2 linked regions of the Homo sapiens genome follow. The protein of the gene in region 2 interacts with the protein of the main gene of each other region in a biochemical or structural test. Each region holds a gene or a part of one and is shown on either strand. Other genes may lie near its edges.

Region 1 (3,327 bases), on a different chromosome or scaffold from region 2:
AGCCACCCTGCCTGCCATAGACAAATGGCGACTAGAGCGTCGCCACTCGGGGCGTCATCAGCCTGGAGATGGCGCAAGAGTGCCATCTGATGCTGGGCGGGGAAGAGGATTGCAGCGAGGTACCAACACGACCACACATGCAACCACAGCAGTCAAGTCTTTCTAAGGCATTGGCCACGGGCATCCTCCCTACTTCTCCACTCCACCCAGCCTTGCCCGATTCTATTATACTAAGAAGCCAGGGAAGAAGGAAAGCCTTTTCTTCTAGCACCTGCCTCTTCTTGAGACCCAAGTGATACATCACAGCTTGTCACTCAATCTTTCTGCATTATCAACCTCCTGACAGTGTAGAACCCAAAGTCCTCAGTAATATTCCAGCCATAGAGTACAGTGTCAGCCAAACCCTTGAAGGCGTTCTCCAACCAGGCCTAAATGTCCAGTACAGCCACAGTCAAGAGAGAATTCACTCTCCGAAGGTTTCACCATCCATGTCAGCACTACACTGGTAGATGTATAACAACCAGTTTGTGGGGAGGAACTGATCTGTAGTGTTTGCTAGTTTCTGTAAATAATCCTACCATGGCCAATTTCAAGCTACCAACATGAAGTCACTTAATAGAGTTGGAAAAAGGTGCCAATAATTGGCTCTCATTAGCCACTAGGAACTGGTTCCAACACACCACTAAGTAGGTTTTCCTAGAGTCTGATAATCCCCGTAAGAGCACCATTCCTTCCACTGTCCGATTCCTTCAGCCTGCTATAACTGAGTGAGCATTAGGTCCATTTTTATTTCAGTCAACTTGTGCAACAGAAGAAAGATTCCAGGAGGCCAGGAAATATTTTATTGACAACCAGGGACACAGTCATAAGAGAGGGAAGCACACAGGACTGCAAACTAACACCCAGTAGCCAGCAAGGGCCCTCTGGGCCAGGAATACTGAATCCTGGGATCCTCACAGTCTCCCACCAGTAGACATACATTACTGGGCATCCAGGGGAGGGGGCAGTGGCTATGGTGTCCCAGAGAGTGAGAGGATATATGATGCCTCATTATGAGCGACAGGGTAAAGAGGTAAAATGGAGGGTCCATCACTGCCTAAGACCACCTCCTCCTCTCAGAGCCAACACCAGGTGAAGGACTGAACCACCTAAAATCTTGTAATCAGCTGCTGTCTTCTCATCATTCCTGCAGGAAAAGGAAGCCAGAAAAAAAAGAAAAAGAAGACTTAGGAGTTTTTTGTTGTTGTTGTTGTTGTTGTTGTTGTTGTTTTTGACAGAGTCTCGCTCTGTCATCTAGGCTGGAGTACAGTGGCACGATCTCAGCTCACTGCAACTTCCACCTCCTGGGTTCAAGCAATTCTCCTGCTTCAGCCTCCTGAGTAGCTGGGATTACAAGCGCCCACCACCACGCCCAGCTAATTTTTGTATTTTTAGTAAAGATGGGGTTTCACCATGTTGGCCAGGCTGGTCTCGAACTCCTGACCTCAGGTGATCCACCCCCTTCAGCCTCCCAAAGTGCTGGGATTACAGGCGTGAGCCACTGCGCCCGGCCAGAACAGGAGTTCTTGAGTTTCCTGGATCTCTTTGGGGGTCTGTGAACTTGAATGAGAAAAAAAATCCCATCTTTATTTTTACTAACCCCCAACTGAAATTTAACATTTCTTCTAACTTTAAACATAGCCCAAAAACCACAGTAGTATTAGCAATATAGGTAACTTGTTAACAATAGCAATTAACTATTTTCTATCATGATCATTTATAGGTATCTTGAAAATATTTCAAAATTATGGTCATATTAGACCTACCATTAGATCTTATGCATTAATAAAAAAGTACATATATTACTATATCACAAATTTGTTTTAGTATTTTAATAACTATTTCAATATAATTAGTTTTCCTTTAATTCTATATATTTTGTTTTATGCCTGAAAAAATCTTATTCTGAGAAGGGGCTTAGAGGCTTCACCAGATTGCCAAAGAGTCTTAGGCACCAAAAACAAGAGGCACCCCTGATCCACCTCAGTACGTGCCCCCTCTCCTCTTCTCATCTTCACATAAGATCGCCATGCTGTCATTCTCACTCCAAACTCACATCTGCTTGCCACTGTAGATGAGCCTCTGCTGTTGTGGGGGGATTCCCTCTTTCTCCTCCACACGCTCCTTGATTCGCTCCACCTTTAGAGAGACAAGTAGTCAGGGGCTGCTGCTTAGGGGTAGGACCATGGAAACGGAAAGAACAAGGGCTATGCAGACAGCATGAGAGCAAAAGGACCAAGTTCATAAGCATATGCAAACAAATACACATGGCAAGAAGTACATGAAGAGGAGTTGGGCATGCATCACCTTGTCTGTAGGTTCAATGTCAATCTCAATCTCCTTTCCGGTCAGCGTCTGAAACAGGCAATGGTTTCATGAGTCCTTAAAGCCCAATGTACAATTTGTCTTCTAGGTAAAACATCCTATGTTGGTCTTTGGGATCTACTGCCTTCTAAAAGATGCATATTCTCAGCAGCACTGCTTTGGAGAATGAGAAGGCTTTGAACATACCTTCATTTATCAAATATTTTTAGGCTGTAAACAACTTTGATAGGGCAAGATTCTTTGAACCATCTGATCCTCTTAATTCCATGAGTCATCTTCCAACATCAGTCCCCCAAAATCAGTGAGAATATTGGCATTATTTTAGATGATACGGCAATGAAAGGATTTATTTATTTATTTTTGAGATGGAGTTTCGCTCTTGTTGACCAGGCTGGAGTGCAATGGCACAATCTCGGCTCACTGCAACTTCTGCCTCCCAGGTTCAACCAATTCTCCTGCCTCAGCCTCCCACGTAGCTGGGATTACAGGCATGCGCTACCAGGCCTGGCTAATTTTGTATTTTTAGTAGAGACAGGATTTCTCCATGTTGATCAGGCTGGTCTCAAACTCCCAACCTCAGGTGATCCACCCGCCTCAGCCTCCCAAAGTGCTGGGATTACAGGGGTAAGCCACTGCACCCAGCCTGAAAGATATCTTAAAAAAAGTCAGAAGGACCTTGTTCTAAATATCAATGCTAGAAATTAATATTCAGATAATTTGAAGAATTCTCAAGGACACCAGAAATCATCTCAGCAGTTTTTTAAAAAATGCTAGAATTGGCTGGGCATGGTGGCTCACACCTGCAATCCCAACACCTTGGGAGACTGAGGCGGGAGGATCACTTGAGCCTAGGAGTTCCAGACCAGCCTGGACAACACAGCGAAACCCTGTCTCAACCAAAACAACAACAACAACAACAACAACAACAAAAATTAGCTGAGTACAGTGGTGCATGCCTGTAGT
Region 2 (3,821 bases):
CTTTCAATCTTCTTTTTTTTCTCAATTCTAAAGCTCTCCCTTACAAATAGTTTTACAACTAGTACCCATGATTCACAGATTTTCATTAAGAGAATTGTTTAAGTCCAACTTGATTTGTTCTCACAAGTTTGAAAAATTGGAATATTTTCTGGGTTTTTTTTTCATTTTCCCTTCCAGTGGAGTTGAACAGTTCATTATACTTTTTAAATAGATCACAGTCACATAAGTCATAGCCCACCCTTTTCTTCTCCTTAGAAGATTCTCTATTATTATTATTATTTTACTATTTGTAGGTAGAAAACATTTATCAAATAAATGTTTTTGTTTTTTGCTTTTTGCTTTTTTTTTTTTTTTTTTTTTTTTGAGGCGGAGTCTTGCTCTGTCACCCAGGGTGGAGTACAGTGGCACAATCTTGGCTCACTGCAGCCTCTGCCTCCTGGGTTCAAGCGATTCTCCTGCCTCAGCCCCCCAAGTAGCTGGGCCTACAGGCACACGCCACCATGCCCAGCTAATTTTTGTATTTAAGTAGTTATGGGGTTTCACCATGTTGGCCAGGCTGGTCCCAAACTCATCACCTCAAGTGATGCGCCTGCCTCGGCCTCCCAAAGTGCTGGGATTACAGGCATGAGCCACCGCGCCCAGTCTCAAATAAGTGTTTTCACTTTTTCCTGGCCTCTCTAAACTCCACACCTCTCAAGATGTCAAACCACAGTGTGGACTGCAGTGTAACGGGGCGACCTCCACTCATCAGAGTTGATGGCCTTAGAGTCTTTCATGCCCTTTTCTATATTTTGCCTTTTTTTTTTTAAGTCAGTATTGCATTTTCTGATTTTTCTTGATAGGACCTTGCTAAGCAGTACTCTGACAGACTAGAATGCTGTGAAAATGAAGTAGAAAAGGTAATAGAAGAAATACGTTGCAAGGCAATTGAGCGTGGAACAGGAAATGACAATTATAGAACAACGGGAATTGCTACAATCGAGGTGTTTTTACCACCAAGACTAAAAAAAGTGAGTAATTTCCCTAAATTTGAGTAGGCACTAATGTCCAGTTAGTGATGAGGTCAAATAAATTGTTGTTGTTTGGAAAGTTACAATCCAAAGTCAGAATTCTTTTAAGTGACTTTACATATTGAACAATTTATCAGCTTGAAAGTCAATGTTACAAATTCTTAAACTGGAACATTCCCAAGGTAGGCTTTTAGAGACCCTCTTGGGCTTCTAAAATGCCACAGAGCTGTATGTCACATTCTGATCCTTTCTAGCGTGTGAACGTTGAGAAATAATGGGGAATAAAGGATTCCCAAGTTTCCTAGAAGCCTGTGCAGGAGGACACAGCACAGAAGGCTTCATCCTTTTCCTGTTCCAGTAGAGGTCAGAGGGCAGTCCGCTGAGTGCTCTCAAGCAGGGCCGAGGAGATCTGGGTGGGGTCACCTCCTCTCATTGCCATGGCCAGGTAGTTTGCATCTAGAAATGTCACTGTGGCAAGGCACCCAGAGCCTCTTGGGACTGATCGATGCCAGCACTCTCAGAAGAAATAAGAGCATAGGCTCCAGCCCTACTGGGTCTGTGGTTTTTCTCCTCATGTGCGGAGACAAGAGATCGTAGAAATAAACACACAAGACAAAGAGATAGAAGAAAAGACAGTTGGGCCCGGAGGACCACTACCACCTAGACGCGGAAACCGGTAGTGGCCCCGAATGCCTGGCTGTGCTGTTATTTATTGGATACAAGGCAGAAGGGGCAGGGTAAGGACTGTGAGTCATCTCCAATGATTGATAAGGTCACAGGAGTCATGTGTCCACCGGACAGGGGGCCTTTCCCTTGTAGGTAGACGAGGCGGAGAGAGAGGACAGCTTACGTCATTATTTCTTCTATGCTCTTCTCAGAAAGATCAAAGACGTTAATACTTTCACTTTCTGCTGCTGCTATCTAGAAGGCGGAGCCAGGTGTACAGAGCGGAACATGAAAGTGAAACAGGAGCGGGACCACTGAAGCACAGCGTCACAGGGAGACGTTTAGGCCTCTGGATGGCTGTGGGCGGGCCTGACTAATGTCAGGCCTTCCACAAGAGGTGGTGGAGCAGAGTCTTCTCTAACTACCCCAGGGAGAGGCTCCCTTTCCCAGTCTGCTAAGTAACAGGTGCCTTCCCAGGCACTGGCGCTACCGCTAGACCAAGGTCTGCTAAGTAACGAGGGCCTTTCCGGGCACTGGAGTTACCGCTAGACGAGGGAGCCCTCTAGTGGCCCTGTTCGGGCATAACAGAGGGCTCACACTTGTCTTCTGGTCACTTCTCACTGTGTCCCTTCAGCTCCTATCTCTGTGTGGCCTGGTTTTTCCTAGGTTATAATTGTAGAACAAAGATTATTGTAATATTGAAATAAAGAGTAATACTACAAACTAATAATGATATTCATATATAATCATATCTATAATCTATTTCTAGTGTAACTATTCTTATTCTATATATTTTCTTTATTATACTGGAACAATTTGTGCCCTCGGTCTCTTGCCTTGGCACCTGGGTGGCTTGCCGCCCACATATATATTAATATGTAAAACCTCATACATGAATGGTCATAGCAACACTATTCAGTAGCTGAGAGATGGAAATAGTCCAAATGTCCATCAACAGATGAAGGGATAGATAAATGTGGTCTATTCATACGATGGAAAACTGTTCACAATGCAAAGGAATGAAGTGCTGATGCGTCCACAACGTGGGTGCACCTGAAAACATGATGCTCAGGGAAGAAGCCAGACACAAAAGGCCACGTACTGCACTATCCCATTTATATGAAATGTCCGGAATAGGCAAATCTGTAGCAGCAGAAAATGGATTAGTGGTTGCCAGGGGCTGGGGGGCAAAGGGGAGGGAATGGGGTGCAGGCCATGGTGTTTCTTTGAGGGATGGTGGAAATGTTCTGAAATGTTAAAGACGTCCAGCTGTGTGAGACGGCCCCTCTGAGCAGCCCTGCCTGGTGGTGCCACGCTGCCGCCCCCTTGAGGACGTGCAGGTCACAGGGTCAGCCTGTGCTGGGTTATGTTCAGTAGACTTCTAGGCAGGCAGCATTTTAGTTTTTAACAGTGAACTCAGTTTATATCCTCTGCCGTCAGCTTTTCTGATTTCACAGGGTAATCTCTCCAAAATGGGTTAAATTCAAGTACGTTTTACTTTGTCTTATTTTTAACAGGATAGGAAAAACTTGTTGGAGACCCGATTGCACATCACTGGCAGAGAACTGAGGTCCAAGTAAGTATCTGTGTGCTCTGTGTCCTAGGTGCTCTGGGCCTTTTTACATTGGCTTATTTGATCCTCTGTGAGCGTCCTCTTAAGATAGGTAGGGCAGGTATTATCTTCATTTTATAAAAGAGAAAATTGAGGCTTTGAGGTTGAAGGACTTATTAGAGCTGTCACTGGTAGGTAAGTGGCAAAGTGAGGACTCAAGACTTGCAAGCACTATTTCCTGGTGTAACTTCCGAGCAGGTGGGAACTCCATGCCTATCATATGGTAGGCACTTGGTGCATGTTTGAGTGAATGAGTGAGTGATACAAGCAGGAGACACCTGGTACTCACTAGCTCATTAGTTTTGAATTACTATTTTTTTTCCCTAATGTATTAATAGCTTGCTATGACCTTCAGCACGGTGTTTTATCTGATTTCAGGCTGTTGGCCCATCTGTAAAACACACACACACACACACACGTTTGCCACATACTAGTGAAATCCTAACTTTGAGATCTGGTGGGTTATTTCATCTCCTTGTATGTTTTAAAATGGTGTTTGGAGCACCTCCAGGGCTAGCTAGCGGGTGTATTTC

What was found.
Region 1: the proteins of NUB1 (region 2) and NEDD8 form a complex in vitro, tested with the Homo sapiens proteins (4 studies listed by BioGRID).

Annotation. Positions count from the first base shown.
Region 1 is NC_000014.9:24,216,038-24,219,364, forward strand, and holds the end of NEDD8 (ubiquitin-like protein NEDD8), read right to left. Parts: intron 2,395-3,327; coding exon 2,347-2,394; intron 2,179-2,346; coding exon 2,096-2,178; intron 1,187-2,095; coding exon 1,090-1,186; 3' UTR 820-1,089; downstream 1-819. Other genes in the region: NEDD8-MDP1 protein, read right to left, coding at 2,096-2,178, 2,347-2,394. UniProt on the Homo sapiens protein: Ubiquitin-like protein which plays an important role in cell cycle control and embryogenesis via its conjugation to a limited number of cellular proteins, such as cullins or p53/TP53.
Region 2 is NC_000007.14:151,348,231-151,352,051, forward strand, and holds part of NUB1 (NEDD8 ultimate buster 1), read left to right. Parts: intron 1-842; coding exon 843-1,010; intron 1,011-3,193; coding exon 3,194-3,252; intron 3,253-3,736; exon of another isoform or gene 3,737-3,821. UniProt on the Homo sapiens protein: Specific down-regulator of the NEDD8 conjugation system. Recruits NEDD8, UBD, and their conjugates to the proteasome for degradation. Isoform 1 promotes the degradation of NEDD8 more efficiently than isoform 2.